Linked DNA regions of Homo sapiens. The protein of the gene in region 3 purifies or fractionates together with the protein of the main gene of each other region. This does not show direct contact. Each region holds a gene or a part of one and is shown on either strand. Other genes may lie near its edges.

What was found.
Region 1: the proteins of ZNG1B (region 3) and IQGAP2 purify together in Homo sapiens (affinity purification with mass spectrometry; one large-scale study listed by BioGRID and IntAct). This does not show direct contact.
Region 2: the proteins of ZNG1B (region 3) and TCERG1 purify together in Homo sapiens (affinity purification with mass spectrometry; 2 studies listed by BioGRID and IntAct, with this or other methods). This does not show direct contact.
Region 4: the proteins of ZNG1B (region 3) and AGAP1 purify together in Homo sapiens (affinity purification with mass spectrometry; one large-scale study listed by BioGRID and IntAct). This does not show direct contact.

Annotation. Positions count from the first base shown.
Region 1 is NC_000005.10:76,693,285-76,696,784, forward strand, and holds part of IQGAP2 (ras GTPase-activating-like protein IQGAP2), read left to right. Parts: intron 1-70; coding exon 71-158; intron 159-2,169; coding exon 2,170-2,382; intron 2,383-3,500. UniProt on the Homo sapiens protein: Binds to activated CDC42 and RAC1 but does not seem to stimulate their GTPase activity. Associates with calmodulin.
Region 2 is NC_000005.10:146,506,333-146,509,396, reverse strand, and holds part of TCERG1 (transcription elongation regulator 1), read right to left. Parts: intron 2,370-3,064; coding exon 2,190-2,369; intron 1,765-2,189; coding exon of another isoform or gene 1,657-1,764; exon of another isoform or gene 1,619-1,656; intron 1,525-1,618; coding exon 1,441-1,524; intron 253-1,440; coding exon 152-252; intron 1-151. UniProt on the Homo sapiens protein: Transcription factor that binds RNA polymerase II and inhibits the elongation of transcripts from target promoters. Regulates transcription elongation in a TATA box-dependent manner.
Region 3 is NC_000002.12:113,493,191-113,496,690, forward strand, and holds the end of ZNG1B (zinc-regulated GTPase metalloprotein activator 1B), read left to right. Parts: intron 1-566; coding exon 567-635; intron 636-738; coding exon 739-804; intron 805-1,929; coding exon 1,930-2,059; intron 2,060-2,446; coding exon 2,447-2,553; 3' UTR 2,554-3,014; downstream 3,015-3,500. UniProt on the Homo sapiens protein: Zinc chaperone that directly transfers zinc cofactor to target metalloproteins, thereby activating them.
Region 4 is NC_000002.12:236,036,043-236,039,542, forward strand, and holds part of AGAP1 (arf-GAP with GTPase, ANK repeat and PH domain-containing protein 1), read left to right. Parts: intron 1-518; coding exon 519-673; intron 674-3,500. UniProt on the Homo sapiens protein: GTPase-activating protein for ARF1 and, to a lesser extent, ARF5. Directly and specifically regulates the adapter protein 3 (AP-3)-dependent trafficking of proteins in the endosomal-lysosomal system.

The DNA of each region.
Region 1 (3,500 bases), on a different chromosome or scaffold from region 3:
TTAGGAGAAACAGATTTTTGTGCATAAGGACTACAGTCTGAAAGTCTGTCTCTTTCTCTGGTTTGTTAAGGACCAAGAAGCTGATAATTGATGTGATCCGGAACCAGCCAGGGAACACATTGACAGAAATCTTAGAGACACCAGCAACTGCGCAACAGGTAATTTGACTTTAAGTGTAAAATAATAATAGACAGGTGTTGATTTTCTTCATAAATCTTTATGCCATATGTTTATTATCTCAGAGAAACTGTATCTGACATGGTCCGGAAGTAAGGAATTTTATCTATTACTGCAGTGGACTTAGTTCAGCCATATATAAACCTGTATGAAGTATCAATGGGAATGAAATAGAAAATACAGCACCAAATTCATGCCGAATATACTTTTGTCTTAACCTAGGATGATAGTTCTGGGTTTTTCAAAGCCCGGAAATGTTCATCATAATGGGCAAATAAGTCAGTTGAGAGAGTTCTAGCTGACAGGATATTGAAAAATACCTTTCACATTTTATGTATTTACTAACTTGAAACAAATAAGCGACTCACATGTTAAAGATGTTTTCCAAATGCTTCAGAAGCAAATGTTGAGTCCACTGAGTCAAAGCATCATTATGTTAGCGTAAGTGAGGTTTCACAACAATCTTGCATTTAGCTTTTTATTAACATCTTTGAAAATACGTCATTGTTCGTTCTAAAATAAATTCAAGGTTGTTATTTTAGTACCAATAATTGCCGCTCCCTAAACAAAAGTTAATTATTTAATTAACTATTTCTTAGCACAGCTACACATAATTTTCCTGGATCATTCTTAATTTAATTGATTGCCAAGGAATCCTTGTAATAGTTTTTAATTTAAAAAATATAAAAGGCTGGGCATGGTGGCTCATGTCTGTAATCCCAATACTTTGGAAGGCTGAGGTGTGTAGATCACTTGAGCCCAGGAGTTCAACACCAGCCTGGACAACACAGTGAGACCCCCATCTCTAATTTTTAAAAATTTTTAATAAAAAATGTAAAGCAAAACTTCAAATCACACGTTTGTTAATATGTGGGTATGTTTTAAACAATGTGGGTAAAATATTATACTAGGTTAGTATAAAAGACTTTTACTCCTTACTATTTTTCATTTTCCCCTAAATGTATCATGAATAAGTGACTAAGAACACAGACTTCTGAGATCAACTATACCTCTGCACCTCCTAGGTGTGTAACTCTGTGCACTTAGAAGCATTGCTGTGCCGCAGTTTCCTCAACTGTAAAATGGGTATAATAATAGTACCCAGCTCACAGGCAGGATTAAGTCAATTAAACATGTTAAGTGGGTACATCTGTATCTGGTGCACATTAAGTGCTCAACAATGTTGGCTGCTGCTTTTGTTATTTACTGCTAACCTGGTAATAATGTTCCAATAATATTGACCTACCTGTCCTGTGTCTAAGATTACTGTCCCTAACTAATAGTCGTTTCCTTAGACTTCATCTATTGGGTCAGTCAATTGTCTAGTACAATGAAATGGGAAGACCAATAGTCTCTTTTTGTTACTGTTTCCTTGAACAGACTATCCAAAGAGTATTCATTCATTCATTCATTTACTCATCGTTTGGGAATTTATAATGTGCTAGAATATTCTTATTCCCTTTGGCTCAAAGAAACTTTGCAAGTTTTTCAGAGTTGCTGGTTTGTGATTCCCTTATAAGAATAAAGCTCTCTGACTGCCTTACTGTTGGTTTAGTTTAGGACTCTCCATAAACATGGCTGATGTGTGAGAGTTTAGCTGGGTTCTGAACATTCAGGGTTCTCATAGCCACATTTCAATAGGTAATCTAGTTTTAGTTTCCTCAGCTAGCCTATCCAGGAATTGAAATCCTTCCATGTGGGGAACAAAGTAGCAGTTATCCATTAAAATATGTCCATTACTATAGTGATTTGTCACCTTGGCAATAAAGTAGCTATTGAGAATTTTTCCCAAATAAGGCTTGCTATCGAAAAGATGAAGTAATTCCTTTCAAAGACCTACTTCAAAACTCAGGAAGAACATGTTCTGGTTCTAGTCTCTGAACTTTGGCTGGAGGACTACTTTCATTTTGACATTAACTTGCATTGTGTAGCTTATGAACTGTGAAATTAGGGGATCAGAGAAAACTCAGCATCTTGATATTCTCTTTTCAGGAGGTAGACCATGCCACGGACATGGTGAGCCGTGCAATGATAGATTCCAGGACTCCAGAAGAAATGAAGCATAGCCAATCTATGATTGAAGATGCACAGCTGCCTCTTGAGCAGAAGAAGAGGAAAATCCAGAGGAATCTTCGGACGTTGGAACAGACTGGACACGTGTCATCCGAAAATAAATACCAAGACATTCTCAATGAGATTGCCAAGGTTTTTGGAAACAGTATTCTTTCTTCCTTCACTTAGCAGACATTTGCTAATCACCAGTCAAGTGCTGGGCACTCTGTGAGGTGGCATTAGGGATTCATGGTTGCATATGCTGTGGTTACTGCCCTCTTCAATGCTACAGATTTTTCAAGGTTTCAAAGCAGTTGATGACTTTTTTTTTTTTTTTTTTTTTTTGAGTTGGAGCCTCGCTCTGTTGCCCAGGCTGGAGTGCAGTGGCACAATCTCGACTCTCTGCAACTTCCGCCTCCCAGGTTCAAGCGATTCTCCTGCCTCAGCCTCCTGAGTAGCTGGGACTACAGGCACGCACCACCACGCCCAGCTAATTTTTGTATTTTTAGTAGAGACGGGGTTTCACCATGCTGGCCAGGCTGGTCTCGAAATCCTGACCCGGTGATCCACCGGGGCCTCCCAAGCAGTTGATGACTTTTAAGAGAAAACAATCACAACACTTTCATGTCATTAGGAGAGTTGAAACAGACCAGAAATAAATACTAAAAAATGTACTTGACAAGTTTGGTCTATACCTTTAAAGTTTTAAAAATAACACTATTGGAAGAGTTTTCTCCTGAGATGTTAGTTGTCATATAGCTCAGTTGCTCTTAGAACCTGCCACTGAGATGGAACTCTGTGTCCCTGATCATTTGTTTTTAAGCAATTTAGCCTAAATGCAGTTCAGACTTGAAGATTAGTTTCTGTTTTCTTATCCAATATTTTTACACTTGAGAAACTTCCTGAGCAAAGGATCTCAACTTAGTGCAATGAAACATCACAGGAAGTGGCTGAGATCTGTTTGTCAAGGATAAGGAAGTATATATTTGGGTTAGAAGGATATTTCATTCTTTTTATTCAAACATGCAAATTAATATGGATCTAGAGGTTAAAGGCAGTTAAATGACCAGAAAAAAAAAAAATTTCTCACCTTCTGGAAGGGAAATGCGCTCAGCTTTGTTCTTTGATAGAAAATTATGTTCAATTCTGGCAGTAGGCTTATTCCTTCTAGCCCAAGTGACTCAAGGGAAATAACATTTCTTTCTTTAGTTTGGGGGTAGAAATATTTCTATTTGGGAATATGGGGTAGATAAATATATGCTTTTGCTTTA
Region 2 (3,064 bases), on a different chromosome or scaffold from region 3:
CTGTATTTGACTTTGGACAGAAGTTGGTATCTTCTTATCCCTAAAAATTAATAATGTCAACATGTGTGTGAATGCAAAGAATGCTCTGACCATTAGAGTAAAGACTAGTAAAGAGAATGACTGCCAATATGAAACATTTCATTGCACACACCTATATGTTATAAATTTGGTCTCTTTCAAAAGCGTCCTGAAGTCAGCTTTGGCTGTGATATATTTGTCTCTGATATATTCTTCAAATTCTCTTTGTTTTTTCTGTTAATAAAAAAAAAAAAGTTGAGATTATGGAAATAAAACCCACTAATTCCAAAATAAACATCAATTATTTATTAAACAGTAATGTGTAAGTCACATAATAAAATTTAAAATTCAAAAGAAAAAGGCAACAGGGTACATTTTGTTCATATATAAAATTCATTAAATCACAATTTGCAAGGCTCATTTTTGCGGCAAATAGAAAGAATGAGGAATCATAAATTAGTAGTGGCTAAAACTTGAGAACTTGCTATGTGCTACACTGCTGAGCATTTTATGAGGATCATCTACTTCAATCTTCACAACAACCTCATGAGGTGGACACTTAAAAATAAGGATATTAAGGATTAAGTGTTCACTTCCTGCACACTGTATTTTTAACTTCAAGAACAAAAAGAGTAATTTGTGGATACAGCAACTGTAGGTTAACACTCAATACTTAACTTACACAGTAATGAGCATTTAGCTTTCTGGCAAGCCAAAAGTAATAAGATGAATAAACTCTTTGGACTTAAAAAAGACTTTATTATCAATTCTAAACAGTCAGAAAAGTTAGAAACTGAGACTGGGTCTACCCCTCTTTCCCAGTCATGCATATTTTATGGTCCAAACATCTACAATCCAATAGACTTTGAGGGGGAAGAATATTAGATTTATGAGTTTTTATAAAAGATGCCCAGACCTACAGAAACCAACCAGGAAAGGGGAATGATGTAAAAGAAAACAAATAAAAGGCCTAGGGATAAAATGGACTGTAGTAAACAACACTTTTCTTGACATCATTCACTGTTTCAGACCTTGAAGCATATGAGAACTAGCGATCTCATTACAGGGCTCTGTTTGGCTTAAGAGTCAAGTGCTTTGATAGTTTGGTACCAATTGCCAGCCTAAATATGTCTGTCTAGTGGTACCTGACTAAAATAAAACTGCAGCTTCATTAAATTTCTAAGATCCTAAAATACAAGCTTCACCCCAAGTACTAAAATTTTAAACTTTCTATTGTGCTGTCTTGCTAATTTATCATGCAAGAAACAATACATAAACTTAAAATTCAGATTTACTTCTCATACACTTAAAAGTAATTCACTTAAAACAATCAACTTCATTTTGGTTAAGATAGTAGTGCTGTTAGGCCCCGATTTAAGTATTTATAGACTGACAGTAAATCTCGACACAAAATCCTCTTACCCTGTCACTGGAGGAGAACTTAATACATCGAGGATCTTCCTTAATGATTTTTTTTACTTCTTTCCACGTGGATGTTAAGGTAATCTTTGAAAAGACATGAATAAAAAACATAAATACAACTCACTTTTACTTAGGGAGTCAAACTGCAGCACATAGGTACATAATATTACACACTGACCTGCGATCTCTTGTAATGCCCAAGCGTAACTGGACTAGTTAGGGACAGGGAAGCAGCGTTAATGCAATTTCTTTTTGTTGGCTTGCCACAAGAGTTATTTTCATGGCCATACTTTCAAGGTGGCCTAAGACAATCACCTGCAAACCCTGTATTTACATGGGCAAACATCATAACTTCTGAAGAAACCATCACCAAAAAGAGAGCAAATAAAAAGGAACAAAACCTGGATAACAAAGCGTACAAACTGCCGAACAAGAGGCCATAGTACCAAATTGAAAATGGATCAAAAGAAGAAATTTGCTAAATCTATTATTAGGAGGGATCACTGACCACATGGCTAAGGACATTTTGAATTACTATGGGAGCAGTTATGAATGTGAAAACTGCAAAGAATAGGCATTTCTAAATAAATAAGAATACCATAATTTTTTAAAATCAGAGAATTGTCATAAGATGCATTCCAGTAATGAATCTAAAGACCATGACACTAAAAATCATATCAATGCTTTGCTTTAAGAAATTACTAACAAGATTCATCCAGATTAAAATGAGAAAAATAAGAGATTCTTACTGCAGAAGTTTCATCCAGAAGTTGCCTAAAGTGCTCTCTCTTTTTTTTGGTAAGTGCTTCAATGTGTTCATTAAAAAGCTTCTCTTTCTCCTCTCTTTCCAATAAGGATCCAGATTCCCAGCGGTGATCTTTTCGGAGGGTCCTACGAGTATCAGACCATGACACATCTGAAGAACGTACCTGAAGAGAAAAAATTATATATATATCACCAAAGAGACTTATCTGAATGTCCATTTGCACTTCCATGTCCACTGCAGCATTATTCACAATAGCCAAGATATGGAATCAACCTAAGTGTCTATCAACAGATACATGGATAAAGAAAATGTAATAAATATACACAATGGAGTACCACTCAGCCTTAAAAAAAGAGGAAAATTCTATTCATTTATGGCATGGATAAACCTAGAGGACAACATAAGTGAAATAAGTCAAGCACAGAAACACAAATACTGCATAGTCTCACATTTGTGGAATCCAAAAAAGTTGAACTCATAGAAATAGAGAGTAGATGGTCACCAAAGTCTAGGGGGTAGGAGACAGGACAAGGGAGAGAATGAGGAGTTACTTGTCAAAGATAATGAAGTTTCAGAGACAGCAGAAATAAGTTTTGAGACCTACTGCACACCAGGGTTAACTAAAGCCAATAATGTATTCTACATTCAAAATAACTGAGAGTAAATTCCAAGTGTCTCACCACAAAAAATTATAAGCAAACAAAGTGATGAATATGTTAAACAGCTTTGGTTTAATCATTCCATATTATCTACCTATATCAAAACAGCAACTGTACCCCGTAAGTATATACAATTATGACTTCTCAAAACAATTTTTAAGAAGAAGACAGTATAATAGAAGGCATAACAGGTCTGGCT
Region 3 (3,500 bases):
AGTTAAAGATAAGCCAAGCCTTTCTTTTGTATTTTTTTTTTAAGAGAACAAATTTACTTTGGTTTTGAGTTTTATTCCTGGCCCTGGGTAGCTTATTTTTTTGACCCTTATTTTCCCCAATTTATAAAATGAAATAGTTATCTTCACTCCCCAGGATTGTTGTGAAGAGTAAGTCAAAAGATAAAATGAGGTGACTCAGGCAAAAGTACCTGGCCCTGTGTAGTGAGTACATTGTATGTGTTACATATATTCTTATTGCTGAGAATCCACGAAAGAATGAATTAAATAATGAGGACCCTTTCATCAGGGTTTTTGAGTGAGTTTTTTAAAATACAAGGTAGTAGTTTGTGTAAATACTAAATCCATTGGTACCTGTGCAGAATGTAGGAAATGGAGTTGCTAATTCCAAAAAAACAGCACATATGCTGAGGAAAGTATAATACCTAATATATATGGTTTAAGCAATGTAAAATTCCATGAATATGTTCCTTTTCATCTTAAAATTTGTGATTTAAAAAACATTGATATTACTATAAAGAATTATTGTTATTTCCCTTGATTTACAGAGTATTGTTACAATCACATTTGAAGTACCAGGAAATGCAAAGGAAGAACATCTTAATATGTTTATTCAGGTGAATGCAATTTTTAACTGATAAATGATTTATCAATGGTTTTGTTACATAGTTGTTGCTATTAGCGATGGTTGGTCTTATTAAAATATGTCACTTGATACAGAATCTCCTGTGGGAAAAGAATGTGAGAAACAAGGACAATCACTGCATGGAGGTCATAAGGCTGAAGGTACAGTTTACTGTTGCAGACTTTCGGACAAAGTCCTTTTCTTGGCTGTTATAAAAACTATATTTGGTTTTAAACAGAAACACTGGTTTTAGTACAAATCATCTTTGTCTACTTTCATTTTTCTTTATTATTTTCATGACTGAAAAGGAGCTTTGGAAATCACTGCATAAGGCTTGATTTATTTGCACAACTTTCTTTAGGGTTGCAGCTAGAACAAACCTGTGTGCTTTGAAATGTTACCTTCTGCTCTCTGTTCCCAAGTACAGAGAAATAATGTTGCAAATCTCACTTCTGCTGAACATTATGCTTCCTGATGCATTTAGCAGACACTAAACATTTGTCATACTCTAAACAAAGTTACAAAGGACTAGAAGAATTCTTGTTCTGTATTTAGAAACCCACTCACGTTACTTGATATTTGGGTATTTAAGTCATGAAAGGTATTTCTTCTAGGAAGCAGTGATTCTAAAGTGTATGCTTAACCAGTCAGTTGAGTGTCTACTCTTGTGTGTTCACAAGTGTGCACAAAGTTTTTGGTAAATTAAGAATATTATTTCAAATAAATTAATTTCATCCCCATAGGAGCCAGTTTATCAGATAATTCATTTTTCATTTCTGCAAATCAATACACAATGAGCTCATATTCAGATAAATATAATAGTTTTTCTTTATTTCATCATTGTTCATTGATTGCAACCCATTTCTAAAACAAATTATTTAATATAATCAAACTCCTTTAACTTCTCAACTTTTCCCACTAAAACTGTGAAACATTATATAAAATCTTTAATCAATAGGATATGATACATATTTCATCATTTTGTTTCAGGTTTTGGTTGTGATAAATAACACTGAAAAACCATCCTAATATATGTATTAACTTTATCATTAGAAAAGGGGATTGTTCAAAAAAAAATCAATACACAGAAACCTTTTTTGAAAATTAAAAACATTAAGAAACTTCTTGTAATTCACAAATAATTGGAATTAAGTAATTTTCTCAGCTTAAGAGTTTGTATTTTTTAAGTGAATATCAGTAATTAATCCATTAACATTGATGCTCTATTTCTGCTTTTAAGTTTGAACTGAGGCTGATTAATGTTCAGTCAATTCTCCTTTGAGCAGGGATTGGTGTCAATCAAAGACAAATCACAACAAGTGATTGTCCAGGGTGTCCATGAGCTCTATGATCTGGAGGAGACTCCAGTGAGCTGGAAGGATGACACTGAGAGAACAAATCGATTGGTCCTCCTTGGTAAGTCTGAAAGGATTCACAGTTTTAAAACAAAGTGAAAAATATATTTGAAAGGGATATCATGTGCCACTCAAACAGATTAACCATTCAGGTCCTCTTTTAAAACTAAATAAGCTTGTGGTCAATGTTTCATCTTTATCACGTTACAACGTTCGTAAAAGCTTGTTAGGACTTTTGTTCTTCTTCAGTTTTAGAAAAGTGGTTAATCCAAGGACCAATGTGACTTTGATGTACTGACCTGGAAAGTTAAAGATGGAATCACTCAATTACTATTCTTTTTGTAAATTTCTAAACACCATAAAGCATTTAATGAACTGGAATTGATAGGTGAACTGTGTCATTTTAATAAGCATAATGTAATCACGTCATATTTTGTTTTGTTTGCAGGCAGAAATTTAGATAAGGATATCCTTAAACAGCTGTTTATAGCTACTGTGACAGAAACAGAAAAGCAGTGGACAACACATTTCAAAGAAGATCAAGTTTGTACATAACACTAGAGGCATTTCTTATCAAAAGGATTGGATAATAAAAATAAGTTTCTACTGGGTATATTTCAAGCATTTATTTATTACTTTAGTTACGAATTCCAATATACTTTAAAATGGTATTTGTTTTACAGCATACATAAAATGTAGCAAATCGGTACTGTAAAACATTTAACATTCATACAGTTATATATAATATCCTTTTTTTTAAAGAATGGTATTTCACAAAAATGTCTTTTGAAATTGGCTTTGGAGTTTACATATACTGAACATGAAAGTTTATAATAATGATGATACAACTTTCAACATTGTCATTTTTTCTTAGAACTTCAGCTGATTGCAGAGATATAATGATTACATTGTTATTAAATTTTTTTAACACAAGTAAGTGTCACCATTTTATGACATGAAATAAAAGGTTATGACTGTTATTGATGTTGATGTTGACGACCTGATCACCTGGCTGAAGGAGTGTTTGTCAGGTTTCTCCATTGTAAAGTTACTCTTTTCCCCCATTTCATACTGTGCTCTTTGGAAGGAAATCACTATGCACAGCCCACACTAAAGGAATGGGGAGTTGTAGTGTACTTTTTTGGGAGTGGTCTACATAATTAATTGAAATTCTTCTGCAAAGGACAGTTGTCCCTTTCGCTTTATTAGTTCGATCATTTATGTTTATCAGTGTGGACACATGAATATTTTATACTTTGGGTTACAATTTAATACTGCTTTATTTTGTTGCTCAAATTAGCCCAGCTTTGACCATTGGGAACTCTTTCCGTTATCTCCTGTTCCCGCCTTTGACATGCCCCCATCAATGTGGGTTTCCGTTATCTCCTGTTCCCGCCTTTGACATGCCCCCATCAATGTGGGTTTCCGTTATCTCCTGTTCCCGCCTTTGACATGCCCCCATCAATGTGGGTTTCCGTTATCTCCTGTTCCCGCCTTTGACA
Region 4 (3,500 bases), about 120 Mb from region 3:
TCCCTGTCTGAAAACGTGGGAATTGATGCCTCTCCCACGGTAACAGGTCCTCTGCCATAAAAGAACAGAACCTTCCCGCGTTCCTCTATCCATGGAGTGTCTGTGGATCTACGCGAGTGCTTAGATAGAAATTAACCCTGCAGCCGGAGATTAGCGGCCCTAACTTAATTTTCGTCCCACAGATAAGGATGGTCAGCCATGAGTTACATGGTTATTCTCCTAAGTTGCTTTGTGTGTGCACCACACAGAGACGCTGACATCACTCGTTGATTTCATCTGGCCTTGTGCCCTGAGCCTTGATTGAAACCTGGCTAAGTCATGCTGGCCTTAGGAACCACATCTGGACTGTTGGGAGGTGCATGGATTCAAATCTCCGCCGCCGTGGTTGTCCAGTGCCGTGCGCCTCACCGGTCCATGCAGGGGCAGCTGAACCCAGAGGCGCTTCTGTGACAGAGGGCCCGCAGGGGGACTGCTGTCTCATAAAAGCTAAACTCTTCATCCCACACTCTGTGTTTCAGAACAAGAAGAAAATTTTGAGTTTATCATTGTGTCCCTCACTGGCCAAACATGGCACTTTGAAGCCACGACGTATGAGGAGCGGGACGCCTGGGTCCAAGCCATCGAGAGCCAGATCCTGGCCAGCCTGCAGTCGTGCGAGAGCAGCAAGAACAAGGTGAGGCCCCTGGCTGCCCAAAACCAAGGCTGGGGCTGCTCAGGGGGAGTGCGGGCCCCAAGTAATGCCCCAGGGAGGAGAAAATAGAGGACCAGTGTGAATGACAGGACCTAGCTATTCTTTATGAGCAGAAAGCTCAATAACTAAAACGATCAGAAGCACTTTGTGTCTATACCATCATACATGAGTATTCCAGCCTGACCGTGCTTCCCTGGCAGGAGAGCCAAGGTTAAATCTTCAGTCTGTCAGCCAATCCCAGAGGGAATCTTTTGGACTCTTGTGGCTTCTGGGTCCACATTTATTTTTGTTTTGGACAGAATACACTCAGAAAAAAAGAGAGACGGACTTAAAAGATGCACTGTTCAAGTAAATGCCCAGAATTCAAATCGACATCAAGTTGGAAAACCGTCTCTTGTTAGGGACATAAATGAAAAGTAGATGGGTCTGTATGAGCGTGCAGGGAGTTTGGGAAGATAAAGTTTCTATTATCTAAACTGATAAAGCCTGGTATGTGTTTTATTCAATAATTAGAGGTGGTGGTGCAGCTCTTTTAGAATTTGTCCAGCAGGTTTTCTGGTTCTCACCAGAAAACGCCACCCCCAAATGTTTCTATATTAAAAAAATAATGAGAGGCAATTTGTTTTTTGTAGTTACTTAGCTAGAAAAGGAAAAATATTTTAACCTGTATTTTTTTTTCCTTTGGAGAGAGTCTATCTCTGTCACCTAGGCTGGAGTACAGTGGCACAATCTTAGCTCACTGCAACCTCCAAGCTCAAGCAATCCTCCCACCTCAGCCTCCTGAGTTGCTGGGACTACAGGCCTGGCTTGCTTGCTTATTTATTTGTATATTTATTTATGTAATATATATTATTTGTGGAGGTGGGGTTTCATCACGTTGCCCAGGCTGGTCTCAAACTCTTGGGCTCAAGCGATCCACCTGCCTCAGACACCCAGAGTCCTGGGATTACAGGCATGAGCTACCACGCCTGGCTTAACCTGTGTTCTCTAGGCTACTGCCCAGTGATGTTCCTTCTACAAAAGTCCTTTTTCCCATCAAGGATTGCTTCAGTTTCATTATTTTAATGTTTGTTTGTCTTTAACCTCTTTGCTGGGACGTCTTAGACTTTTGGAGAGCATTTTGATATTTCAGACTATGATCAACTAGAAACTAAGAGAAAGGATGTTACCCACCGACCTGCAGTTTCATTTGTAACCATTTAAAGAAATTTCTGCCTATGATTTATGTGCAGCTTTGTCACTAAAAAGAGAGTCTGTCTTTCAGAAAGATGAAGTGTCTTATTTTATTACCCTCTTTAACCAGGGTAAACCAGACCACAGTCATTATTATTATAATGTAATTTGCTTCCCTTTTTAAAAGATGTTTTATACTCAAGGTGGGGAGAACCACTGCCTTTCATTCCATACACCCTGGCTTTACTGGGTCACGTCCACATGCATCCATGATGTGCCTCCTGAAACGAGCACAGGGTGCTTTGGGGCCACCTCAATGGGAAGCAACAGCACACAGCATCCTCCAAGCGTGGGCAGCTCATTCTGAGAAGGAAGGCAGGGAGGCAGGCTGTGTTACCGAACAGAGAGGCACAGGTTCCTGCCTTCATGGAGAAATCACAGTCTTTCACGGCAGACTCTGAGCCCCTGCCACCTCGACCTAATTCAGGAAGATCTGGGATGGTGGCAGCCTTTCCCATTCCACACCTTGCCAGGCTCCTCCTGACTCGTGTCTCAGCTCATGCACACACCAGCCTTAGAATGCTGCCCTCGGCCCTCACTAGGCGCCTGTTCTCCAGGGAATTGCTCCCTTGGGAGGAGGACGCGTTGAGCAACCAAAGGTGGCCGACTCAGAGCTGGTCATCGTGGGCATTGGTTGAACAGGTGTGAGGGCATAAAACATGGAAATACTGTCCACAAGGAGTAGCGGGAGGCAAAAATACAGGCCCAGTTGACCACCAGCTTTATAGTATTTTACCTGCCAGTGGATAATTGAGAGCTGATACAGGTATAGGCATAGCTAGACAGACAGACAAACCAACCAACCACAGAAATGATACAGGTACACAGAGAGACAGAGGCACATCCCTTTGTATGTGTGTGTGTGTGTGTGTGTGTGTGTGTGATCACACACTTGCATTCCAGATGCCAGTGTAAACTGTTTAAACATATTTTGAATACTTGGGTATCTAACCAAAGGGAATTAAAATTCAATAACGCATGATGCTAATTAGACAGTAGTGATTAATACATTATAATTTATTATGTAGCAAGTAATATATTATTTCACATCAATTTGATGAGATGTTTCAATTTATGAAGAATTCTTACGCAAAAATCAAGCTTATTGTAACTGTCCTCTGAAATTGATCAATTTTTGCTTTAACCATAATATTAAATGCATACTTAATAAATAAGCCTCAAAAACACTACATATCAGCCAGACACGATGGTTCACGCCTGTACTCCTAGTGCTTTGGGAGGCTAAGGTGGGAGGATCACTTGAGGCAAGGAGTTCGAGACCAGCCTGGCCAACATAGGGAGACCATTGTCTCTACAAAAAAATTTTTAAATAGCCAGGTGCATGGTTCACACCTGTAGTTCCAGCTACTCAGGAGGCTGAGGTGGGAGGACCACTTGAGCCCAGGAGATGGAGGCTGCAGTGAGCTATGATTGCACTACTCCAGCCTGGGCAACAGAGCAAGACCCTCTCTCTAGGTGGGGAAAAAGGTACATATCCAGTACATATCCTTTCACTTAGAACTTCTACTTCCAGGAATCTATTCTTAGTAAATAATCATGAGTGTGTACCAAGACT